2 linked regions of the Homo sapiens genome follow. The protein of the gene in region 1 purifies or fractionates together with the protein of each later gene. This does not show direct contact. Each region holds a gene or a part of one and is shown on either strand. Other genes may lie near its edges.

What was found.
Region 2: the proteins of ANKH (region 1) and FAM234B purify together in Homo sapiens (affinity purification with mass spectrometry; 2 studies listed by BioGRID and IntAct, with this or other methods). This does not show direct contact.

Annotation. Positions count from the first base shown.
Region 1 is NC_000005.10:14,704,300-14,707,778, forward strand, and holds the end of ANKH (mineralization regulator ANKH), read right to left. Parts: 3' UTR 501-3,479; downstream 1-500. UniProt on the Homo sapiens protein: Transports adenosine triphosphate (ATP) and possibly other nucleoside triphosphates (NTPs) from cytosol to the extracellular space. Mainly regulates their levels locally in peripheral tissues while playing a minor systemic role.
Region 2 is NC_000012.12:13,046,331-13,055,634, reverse strand, and holds part of FAM234B (protein FAM234B), read right to left. Parts: intron 85-9,304; coding exon 1-84.

The DNA.
Region 1 (3,479 bases):
AGCCTGGGCAATAGAGGGAGACTCCGTCTCAAAAAAAAAAAAAAAAAAAAAAAAAAGTGATAAAAGAGTAATGCTTTTCCCATAAAGACTAAGAAGAGTAAGAATCTCTTAGATGTGGGCAGGAGGATTGTCGGGCTCTGTCCTTCTCAGGCTCACCAAACACTTGCTTCATTTTGGCATTCCCATTTGAGAAGGTGTATAGAGAAGTTGGAGAGGGTTCAGAGAAGCATTTTCATTACTGAAGTTTTGGGAAGTAAAAGTAATTTTAATGCAGAATAAAATCTGAAGAAATAGGTTATATTTAAGTAAGACAGGGAGTTTAGAGAAATTTCCCAGTGGTTAGAAGTTTTAGCAACCAAGGGAAAGGGCAAAATGTTAATCTCTCAGGTAAATTTGATTAAAAGGGAAACTGTAATCAGGATTAGGAAACCAAGTAACTTTGCGGTGAGTAAACAGATGCATGGTTAGAATAAAAAAAAATCAAGAAACTAAAAGCAATCTCAGTTGTATGCCAAGTGTTTAAGCTTTACTTAAAGTAAAATTAGAGTATGAAACCTATTTGACAATATATGAATACAAATCCATAAACCCTGAAACAAAGCATATATAAATGCTCTTACCAATGCAAAAACTTCCATCTGTTAGATACATAAAGAGCACTTCCTTAAAAGCGACATGTATTTTATACTGACCGCTGTAGTCAATTTTAATCAAAAACTACACAAATATTTTATTTGTATTTTAGAGACGGGGTTTTGCTCTGTTGCTCAGGCTGGATTCCAACTCCTGTGCTTAAGCGATCCTCCTGCCTCAGCCTCCCAAGTAGCTGGGACTACAGATGCACACCACTGTGCCCAGCTAAATATTTTAATGTGATTGGTTTCAACAGTTTATACCCACAGTTTTGATGTGAAACTGACAAACCTATGGGCTGACAGCCACAGCCCATGTAGAGGAATGACTCTAAGCACACTTAATTTTGTTTAAAAAAAAAAAAATCTAGATCACTGCTAATGTTCAGATCTGAAATGAAGAATGAGGTGATTTTATTCTTCCATTGTAGGATCTCATACGACGTTCTAAATCCTAGATCATAAACAGAATGTTAGATCAGGAAGGGGCCTTAGCAATAATGGCTCAAGCCTCCCATTGGACAGATGAGCAAGGTGAGGCCAAGAAGCGTGAGTGATATGGAAGCCTCCAGCTTGAATACACTTCTTAAATGAATGAGTGTCGGCATGGAACAGAATCACGTGTGTGGCTCTTGTCCACTTTCCCGAAGCCCTTTGATTAACTCCTTGGCCCTACTAGCTTTAGACAGTTCCCTGATCAGTACATCATTAAGCAACCAAAATATCTCATTAAATCCAAGGAGCAGCGTATTTGCCACTGCAAGGCTTGTGGATGTGGCAGCCCTGGGGTAAGGGACCTGCTGCACGGTGACATGACCATCGCTGTGGGGTGCTGGGTGATTGGTGTTGATGTGTACCCTGTACTCCTTTGTTACGCAAGGGTGGTTTGAACTTAGCTTTCAGTAGCTGTTTCATTCAAACCGTGGGTCCCTGCATGTTCATGGCCCCACACTTCAGGGAACCAGCATCTACCCGGTTGTAATGTTCCCCTAATGTTCCCCAACTCCAGAGGCGCCATTTCTTGCCCTGGCTTATAGCTAGGGAACATTGCCTCTAAATCTTATAGTGAGAATTTCCATGAGGTTGTACAGTGAGTGGTACAACCATTTTTAGCTGGTCTGTCCCCTTCTTTAACCTAAGGAAACCACTTAAACTCTTGGAGAGAGAAAGGGTGCCTAGTTCTTGTGTGCTTTTGTTTACATATACATATTGTAGACGCTAATGTCAAGTCTTGTTAGTAAAGTGCACTTTAAGTTATGTAGCCTAACTTAAAAACAGGTACTATATAAAAAAAATTTGCTGAATCTATGTGTAGCTGACAGCCACCTATAAAAGTGCATATATCTTATGCAGTCTTTTAGAGATCCTGGTTGATTGCAAATGAAGCAGAGAAAAACATTATCACTAAAATGAAATATTTTAAAAGATACTGGCTATAATTCTCCTGGAACCACTTGGACTTGACAGAGGTTTTTCAAAAATGATTTAGGAGGCCCACCTTTGATGCTCTTCCCAGCAGAAAGTTGCAAGTTAATAGATTTAATGTCCACTCTTGAGAAGAAAATAAAGTCTAAACTTAAGGTCTTATCATCTCGTTTTTCCCTTTTGAGATCAGATAGTATACTATATATTTGTGACTTTTCTGAGTGGAGTTTGGGTTATTTTGATTCCACAATGCAATTTCTCTCATTTTGAACATTTGCATGATTTTAGACATTTTGCCTTTAAAAGGGCAGGCAACAGGCCCTTTTACGTTTCTCATCAGATTTTTCTCTACATCCTGTTTTAAGTGTGATTAGATCAGTTGATGAGTCACATGATGTTTTTTGCTGCTTCAATGACAGAAATAGAGATTCAAAATAACCACACAGAGGAGTATCCCAGACACGTTGCTCAAAAACATGCTTTCCTACGGTTTGAGTGCTTTATATGAGAGCCATCAGAGGACTGTGTGTGAGGGCGATGTCTACAGAATGCAGGCAGGAGCTGCTGGCTTTGAACCGGCTGAATGTGCAATGCAGACATCTCAACACTCCACGTCTTTCAAAGCTCTTCCTCACACTCCACTGCAATTTTGGTTCCAAAGAAAGGTGAGGAGCAGAACTTAGAAGATAAAGGACCCCTTTTTCTGGACTGTGCACTAGTTTGATTGATGAAGACGTCGTCCTAAGTTTAGAAGTCAGCTCACCTGCAAAGCTGGTACTAACCGGCACATGCTGTCCTGGGCACTGTTCTGCTGGGAGTTACTGAAGTAGAAAGATTTTTAAATACAAGAAAATATTTCTCAAGGAAATGTAATTACAACACTATAAATACTTGCTATTTTGTGGAACACACGCACACTCGCACTTCAGTTTGAAGGGGGAAAAAAAAAAACCAGTCAGCTACTGAGTCTTCAAATCGATGTGTTCCTAGAAACCAAGGATATAGAAAAGTTACTCTCCCCCTGCCCCTTCCCTCCAGAAGATCCCCAAATGGGGAACAAGTAAGAGAGCAGAGAGCTGTTAACATTTCACACTTCTTATTCTGAAAATATAAGTGAATAAATTTTGAGAGTTACGATATGTAATGATTATTCCAACCAGGAGAGAGATCCAGAGGGCTGGGAGTGAGCACTCCTGAGCTGGCCCCGCTGCGACGCATCCTGGCGTCTGGAGAACTCAGCCCAACTCTGTCACTACCCTGGGAGCTCCCAGGCCTCCCCATCCTGGGCCCCCCACCCCCTGCACCTCCCAAGGTTATTTATTGGGAAGACTCAGAGAGTGAAGTATAAAGTGCTTTTACTATTGTAAAGAAGCTTTATTTGGCCCCATCTGATACATCCTAAGCCAATATTAAATGTTTCAG
Region 2 (9,304 bases), on another chromosome or scaffold:
GGTTAAGCACCAGATCGTCTTCGCTCTCATCACTGTCAGCCTGGGTAAGTGGATCATACTCCCCTAGGTCTGGGCTCTTCTTCCCTGAAAATACAGAAAAACAGAGAGTCAAGGGGAACTGGGGAGAAGACACCCTCACCAAATATATGGCAACTGTAAATACCCAGAAGAACACGGAAAACTAAAACAAAAAAATCCAGGTTTACATCAAGTTTGAACCTTGGTGGCTATCTGTAAAACAGAAGCCAGTGAAGCAGGGGTTAGGAATGGAAGGAAAAACAAAAGCACAGTGCTCCAGGATCACTGCCTGCATGAGTTTAAGACAATGGAAAAGGAGGCAGAAGTTAGCAAATTTAAAATGCCTTTAGTTTAAAAAGAAAGCTCTCTTAATGTGTTTGAATCTCACTCAAGAAAAAGATCATGGCTCCACATCAACTCTCCATGTGCCTAATGTGCATATTGCCTCAGATCTTCTTAGATCTGTGACATCCTAATCTTTCCTGGTAAACTTTTAGAACAATTCTTCTCCATACGCTGCTTCTCACAGCCCAATATCTGTGGCTTCCCAACTGTTTCTATGGAAACAACTTAGAAAGTTGAACACTGAATGTTCATCTGAAGATGTATTGAAATCTCACTTCTAAGAACCATCCTGTGATTTGAATGCCCTTTCAGTCTATCTTTTAGTAAACAGTGTTTACCCCAAAAACTGCTCTTCTGAGCAAGTATTCTGGGAGGGGTGGTGATCTAGCCAGTACACAGAGGTAGGGGACTTGTCTTGAAGGTGCTTTGCATGGCAAGCACTTTGTTTTTACTTAGCTTGCAGTGTTGATTTGGGATAGCTGAGAGAGAAATTACAGAAGAGCCTAGGTACACCTCCTCCCAAGCCACCCACCCCTTGGCCTCACTGCCAATGACTGAATGATTTTATGCCTTTATTTCATGTTACCACCAAGTAACAACCAAGAAAATGTTTCTTTTGGGGAGACTTTATGCAGTAATCTATCACTAATGTAAACTCTATCATTAAATCTTTTGTTCAGAAGAAATATAAAAAAGACCACAAAACCCAGCTAATTAAAAAGGGGAAAAGAATAATTATTAATGCTAGTGTCTACCTCTGGGTCACTATGGCCTTGGTGATGTCATTTCATACATTATATCTCAGTTTGTTCAATTAATAAAATGAAAGAATAAAACACTATATGGAGACCAGATTGTTGCGGGAAGGCAAGGACCCCAAATGGAGGGACCAGCTGGAACCACGGCAGAAGAACATAAATTGTGAAGATTTCATGGACACTTATCAGTTCCCAAAATTAATACTTTTATAATTTCTTATGCCTGTCTTTACTGCAATCTCTAACCACAAATTGTAAGATTTCATGGACATTTATCACTTCCCTATTAATACTCTTATAATTTCTTATGCCTGTCTTTACTTTAATCTCTTAATCCTGTTATCTTCATAAGCTGAGAATGTACGTCACCTCAGGACCACTATTGTACAAATTGATTGTAAAACGTGTGTTTGAACAATATGAAATCAGTGCACCTTGAAAAAGAACAGAATAACAGCGATTTTCAGGGAACAAGGGAAGATAACCATAAGGTCTGACTGCCTGCGGGGTCGGGTAGAATAGAGCCATATTTTTCTTCTTGCAGAGAGCCTATAAACGGATGTGCAAGTAGGGAAGATATCACTGAATTATTTTCCCAGCAAGGAATACCCTGGGGAAGGAATGCATTCCTGGGGGGAGGTCTACAAATGGTCGCTCTGGGAGTGTCTGTCTTATGTGGTTGAGATAAGGACTGAAATATGCCCTGGTCTCCTGCAGGTACCCTCAGGCTTACTAGGATTGGGAAATTCCAGCCTGGTAAATTTTGGTCAGACCGGTTCTCTGCTCTCCAACCCTGTTTTCTGTTAAGATGTTTATCAAGACAATACGTGCACAGCAGGACACAGACCCTCATCAGTAATTCTAACTTTGCCTTTGCCTTGTGATCTTTATTGCCCTTTGAAGCACGTGATCTTTGTGACCTACTCCCTGTTCCTACACCCCCTCCCCTTTTAAAATCCCTAATAAAAACTTGCTGGTTTTGTGGCTCAGGGGACATCACGGACCTACCGATATGTGATGTTACCCCCAGAGGCCCAGCTATAAAATTCCTCTCTTTGTACTCTTTCTCTTTATTTCTCAGACCGGCCAACACTTAAGGAAAATAGAAAGAACCTACGTTGAAATATTGGGGGCTGGTTCCCCCAATACCAGATGTTGGAAGTAAAACCTTTGATGTTTAAAGTTAGTATTTGGTACATTAAAAAAATCAATAAATTTTAGATTTTTTAAAATGAACATTCCACAGAATTATAACATTAAGTACTTTCAAAAAAAATCCAAAGAAAATACTGAATAATCTGTCATCCTAATAACTAGAAATTATTTCTATTTATTTTTATTTTCAAAACTATACATTTTGCCCAATAAATATTAGACTTGATTTTTAAGGGCACAAATTACAAGAAAATAAATCAATTATTAGAAACTTAATTCAAAATAGTACTTTCAGAATATGCCATGGGGTCAGTACAGGTTCCAGATAATCTCCTACAATTTGTATTTCTACTCCATGAACCAAATTATTTGGTTAATTAGGGCACACCATTCCCTAACCATCCCAGATAACTCTACACATAATAATTTGCATACAGAGCCATGGGTTGTTAGAATAATATTAACTCTAATGCTTTTTAAAGTGATTGTTTGTTCTTGTTTTGTTTTTTAGCTAAAATACACCTGACATGATAAACAAAATGTGATATGTACGTACCATGGAATATTATTCAGCTCTAAAAAGGAAGGAACTTCTGACACTTGCTACAAAATGGATGAACCTTGAGGACATTACGCTAAATGAAATGAGCCACACACAAAAAGGCAATACTGTGTAATTCCACTTATGTGAGTTATCTAGAGTAGTCACACTCACAGAAACAGAAAGTAGAATGGTTGTTGCCTAGGTCTGGAGGTAGAAGGAAAAGTTGTTACTGAGTAAGTATAGAGTTTCAGTTTTGCAAGATGAAAAAGTACTAGAGATTGGGTGCATATACAGTTAATACTGAACTGTATACTTAACATAGTTAAGATGGTAAATTTTATGGTGTATGTATTTTTTGACAATTTAAAATGTTTAAATATATATATATATATCTGAAAAACAGGAAAGCACACAGAGTTCTCAACTCTAGAGTTACTTGAGAAAGCACAGCAAGAGACCTTAAAGATCACATAATCTATCCCCACCCCTATCCCAAACTTACAACTAGCTACTTACAAAGACCTATCAACCAGTTACTTAGCAAACACCTGAATGTAACCTGTATTAGGGAATCCACTGGCCTCCAATCTAGAAACCAATTCTTTACACTGATTCAAGAATTTTTTTCTGGGAAGTTGCCAATTATCTGTCCTAGTTTTAATTTCTGGGATCCCTCTCTCACATGTAAGTCCTTCAAACACTCAAAGGTATCAATCATAAGAGACATATGATATGGTATTTAAGAGCTCAAGTCTTCACAATCAAACATCAAGCCAAATCCTGGCTATATCTCTTATGAACTATGTAATCTCAAATTTCTTAACTTTATTGAGCATCAATTTCCCTATTTATGAAATGGAATAATTATTCTTTTTAGCTCATATGATTGTGATGAGAATCAAATAAGATAATATATGTCTGCTTCTTAGTGCCTGGCTTATAGCCACACAATAAATTTTAGCTTCTATTATTATCATTACCATCACTGGTGCTAGTATTGTATCTCCCAGTGCCCTCCCCCACTCTTCTCAGCTCCAACTTAAACACCTCCACCTCTTTCAACCCATTACTTAAAGAAGCATTGTTTCAGGTGTCCTCAACATCCTGGTCATTCTCCTCTGGACACAATGTGATATGTCTGTGCTTTTTAAAATATGGTTCTTGGAACTAGATACAATCCCAGGTACAGTCTGACCAGAGAAAGGGAGGGCAGAGCTATTTCCTACCTACTCCAGATAGCAAACAACAATTCAATTTCTATAACGTAAGATCTTGAGAGCTTTCTTGGCATTCACATCACCTACTGATTCAATTAAAACTTCCAAGCATTTTGAACACATGCTTAAGCCACCCTATAATTGTGCAATTGGATTTTTAGCACCAAGTGAAAAATTTAGCATCGACATCAAATTCAATCTTGCTAGTCAGTCTCCACCTTGCAACAAACATATCAGGCTAAAAACAGCACCTTTGTCAAAGTGAAATCATTAATAAAACACTTCCCAGCAAAACAGTTTAAAGGAAATTCATTTTTATCATGCTATGTACTATCACAGGCAGGGAGGAAGAGAAGCATATGCTACAGGAATTTATAAAATCTGTAAGAAATTTATAAAAACAATTTGAAGCATTCTTTGAGAAAAAAGCTGCTGTCAGATTGGTCTGTTTAGCAAGATTACATGCTTCTAGTTAATGATGGCAAAAGTGGGCATTTCTGTCACACTGTCTTCCCTAAAACCAGGAAAACAAATACAGAAAAATAAAAATAGAACACAAAATAGGAAACAGCCACATTCCCAAACCACAATTTATGAACTAAATGCACTGAAACTTGTACTCAATTGAGAAAGCTCAGTAAGAGTAGGCAAATACATCTTGCAGATATATATTGCACATATATTGCAGATCTTCAGCAATGAGCAGAGTTCACAGAATTAATAATCATGACAACAATAAGATGATGACGATGATGACAACTGGAAGTGTATTGAGTGCCTACTGTCCCAGGCACTGATCCAAGCATTTTGCATGTGTTAATTCATTTAATCCTCACATCAATCTTATATGGTAGATATTATTATTATTATTATTATCCCCCATTTTATCAACAAGAAAAATAAAATTAAAGAGGTAAAATGACTAAGATCACACAACTAGCCAAAAGAAAAGCCAGGATTCAAACCCAGGCATCTGACTGCAGAGTCCATTTGTTGTTCTAACCAACAAGTTATACTACCTCCCTTGTTCCACAAATATAGCCAAACCAGTAATTGCTTGCTTGGAAAGACAAAGTCTGGGGTCACAGAAGCACCAATGAGCCCCATTCAACACCACAGAATCAAATCCAAGTAGGACCGAATGAGGAAAAGTACAAGCTGACATCTTCACAAAAAGCACACTGTCAGGACGGCAGGTTAGAAAAGTAACTGGGCATAATCACTCTGACTGGGCCCAGTCAGGATACAGAAGCCAAACAATAGTTCAAAGAGGACAAGTTTAACATAAAAAAAATTACTAAGCAATGACAGGAGAGTAAACATAAAGATGAGAAGAGAACTCTAAAAGGTCCCCTAGGACTGAGAGACAATATCCAAGGCAGGACAAACTTGATATTTAAAAGGGCTCAGACCCACTTTCACAAATCAGTCAACAAAGGTGAATTTGGAGTTCAGATGCAATAAATTGATAACTGGCAAAACAAAGTCAATGAAGGAAATGCCAAACCAGCAGCCTACAGTCCTGTGCAAAGCCTCCTCCTAGCCAGGATAGAGACATCCACACAGGAAGAGTGCTGGTGGGGAGCCAGCTGACTTAACAGGCCTGGATTACATTCTTGCTTCCAACGGCCCTAGATCACCCCTTTGGCAATAGCCAGGCTGTCAAACAACCGCCCCATTTAAATATAAGTAATAATCAGAAAGGAGCCATGTTTAGTACTCATTCCACAAGATACCACAAAGCTCTACAAATATTCAAGAAAGAAGTAACAACGAAACATAACAAACAATTAGCTGAAAAACAAATGCTGGACAAATCACACCACAAGATGGAAGAAATAATGAACATATACTTCCCCATGGAGTCTGAGAAATTTAGGAAAATCGTCTTCTCTGAAATAAGCACTCAGGAAAACAATGGAAAAAATAACAAACCAGTTTTAGAAAAGAAATCCTTATTGGAATCAGCTAAAGGAACAGATATTGCTGAAAACAGAGTCAGAGACATAAAAAGAATAGACTAGTGAAAATCAAGCAAAATGTAATGGAAATAACTACAGCTGGCAGTTCTGAACACTTATCCTACACTCTTCCAAGCCCTTTTAATGTCTTATCTCAGACCAGGGGTGCTGGCTCACGCCTGTAATCCCAGCACTTTGGGAGGCCAAGGCGAGCAGATCACTTGAGGTCAGGACTTCAAGACCAGCCCGGCCAACGTGGCGAGACCCCGTCTCTACTGAAAATACAAAAATTTGCCACGTGTGGTGGCAGGCGCCTGTAACCCCAGCTACTCAGGAGGCTGAGGCATTAAAATTGCTTGAACCTGGGAGGCGGAGGTTAGAGTGAGTCGAGACCATGCCACTGCACTCCAGCCTGGGCGACAGAACAAGACTTTGTCTCAAAAAAAAATTCTTATCTCAGTAAATCTTCATAACAACTATGTGAGGTAGACACATTACTGTCTTCACTTTCAAGATGAGGAAGCTGAGGCTTGGAAGTTTAAGTAATTAGCGGATGTGGTTTGGCTCTGTGTCCCCACCCAAATCTCAACTTGAATTGTACTTCCATAATTCCCATGTGTTGTGGGAGGGACCCAGTGGGAGATAACTGAATCATGGGGGCAGTTTCTTCCGTACTGTTCTCATGGTAGTGAATAAGTCTCACGAGATCTGATGGTTTTACAAGGGGAACCCTGTTTCGCTTGGTTCTCATTCTCTCTTGCCGCCACCATGTAAGATGTGCCTTTTACCTTCCACCATGATTGTGAGGCCTCCCTAGGCACACAGAACTGTAAGACCATTAAACCTCTTTCTTTTATAAATTGCCTCGTCTCAAGTATGTCTTTATCAGCAGTGTGAAAACAGACTAATACATTGGCCCACAGATAAACAGCAAGTGATAGGTAACAATTCAAAACCAGTCTGGCTTCAAAGTCTGTACGGGCTACATATGATCCCGTGGAAAAAAAATCAAGGCTTTAAAAAGACTAGAAACAACGTGATAGATACTGACAACAAAGGTGAGCCAATATATGCATGACCGAAGAGGATAACAGAAAAGAGGATAACAGAAAAGAGGATAACAGAAAACAGAAAAGAACCAAAAGCAGTATTTTAAAGAGTTGCCAAAAAAAACTTCCTACAATAAAGACCTAAAACTGCAGAATAATGAGTACACAGAGTCCCAAGAAAAACTGATTCAGAAGAATCAATACTGAAATATATCCTAGTAAAGGCACAGGACTTCAAGGACAAAGAAGGAATCCTATAAGCAGCCAGGCCAAAGGAAAAAGAATCAAGTCACTAATGACAGGAACAAAAATCAGGCAAAGATTTCTCCATAGTAACATACACTATTAAAAGATAGCGGAGCAATATCTAAAAAGTCCTCAGAGAAAGAACATGCAATTTGATGTCCAAGCATTCTGACCCAGCCATGACATCACCGAAATATAAAGACAAGCACACAAGCGCTCTGAGTTATCATATTCCTATGCTTTCTTTACATCACAGAAGACTAGGGGCCAGTTCTTGGCCAGCCTTTTGAGAGGAATAAATACTTTTATACTAATTTTTTTTTCAGATACTGCAAAAACAAACCTCCGCTTAAGGATTACAGACTGCAAGTTTTGATTAGAGAAGTCTTTAATAATATTTTTTCTATCTATTTACAGAAAGACAATAAGAGAGCGTGAAGTAAAAGACGTCCACCAACTTGCCTTAAAAGAAGTCCACCAACTTGCCTTAAAAGAAGTCCACCAACTTGCCTTAAGTCCTACTCAGGCTGAGGAGCCAGGCGTCAAATCCAGCTTCCAAGCTTAGGGCACTTAGCACTCACTCGCTTCCTTGCTACTTTCAGCCACCACCCAAATTTTTAATGAATGAAAGGTTTTCAAAGAATAAGGGAGAGGGCACTGATTTCATAACAAATCATTATAAATGCGCTTTCCACAGCTATTGCTTTTCCTCTTAGGAAGACTGAAGATGCTGCTTAAATATAATAGGATTTCCAAAATGGTAGAGAGGAAAACACAAATAGGAAAGTGATGCAACTATACCATACCCAAACGTTTTCAGGAAATATACTAAAACATACACTATTCTATAACATATACTATACTATAGTATACACTATACTGTGCATATACTATACAATACACTCTACTGCAACTAAAGGTAAATAATTCATATCATGGGTTAGTTTACCCAAGGGCATATAAAGACTAAGTTACACAAACAAAATAAATCATAAAAAATCATTTTGCTCTGATATTCCCTCCAGTGTTTGACCTTCAAACTTTAAAATGGCCTAAGAAAAAAAATATATATATACTTAGGAGATAAGCTGCCCTACAGGCTTTATGAATGTCATATTGGCCTTCTGCTACTAATTAACCTCATTTTATGCATGTGAGCCAAACATCTTTCCTTCTTGAGCTTAGCGAAACTGCTCTTTCATAACAAGACTGCTGAGATCTGTCAATAGCTCACTATTACATCAAGCCTTCCTTCAGGTATCACATTCATAAATGAGCACACTGCTGATGACAACAGCTAACACTTACTGACTAATTAACATATGTCAGAGGTTACTAGACCTCCTAAGTACATCCATCTCCTTTACTATTTCAGATAACCCTAGGAGGTAAATATGTAGTAGAATGTGTGGCATAGAGTGAATGTTCCATAATAATGTTATTGTTACAGATGAGGAAACTAAAGCTTAAAGAGATTAAGTAACTAATTAGGTAAAGACTGGATTTGAACCCGAGCCTGTCTCATGCTCTCAGCCACCACTCCAACCTGACTTCCTCACACATGAAAACAGTGGGGATGTTGGGGCCAGACGCAGTGGCTCATGCCTGTAATCCCAGCACTTTGGGAGGCCAAGGCAGGCGATCACCTGAGGTCGGGAGTTCCAGACCAGCCTGACCAACATGGAGAAACCCTGTCTCTACTAAAAATACAAAATTAGCTGGGCATTGTGGTGCATGCCTGTAATCCCAGCTACTCGGGAGGTTGAGGCAGGAGAATTGCTTGAACCCAGGAGGCGGAGGTTGCGGTGAGCCGAGATCACACAATTGCACTCCAGCCTGGGCAAGAAGAGCAAAACTCCGTCTCAAAAAAACAAACAAACAAACAAAAAAACAAACAAAGAAAACAGTGGGGATGTTAACTACAGGAACATAACACAGTAGCCCAAACAGGACAGCAGTCTCAGGACCCCAATTACAGGGGAGCCAAAAAGAGCTATATAAAAACAACTTG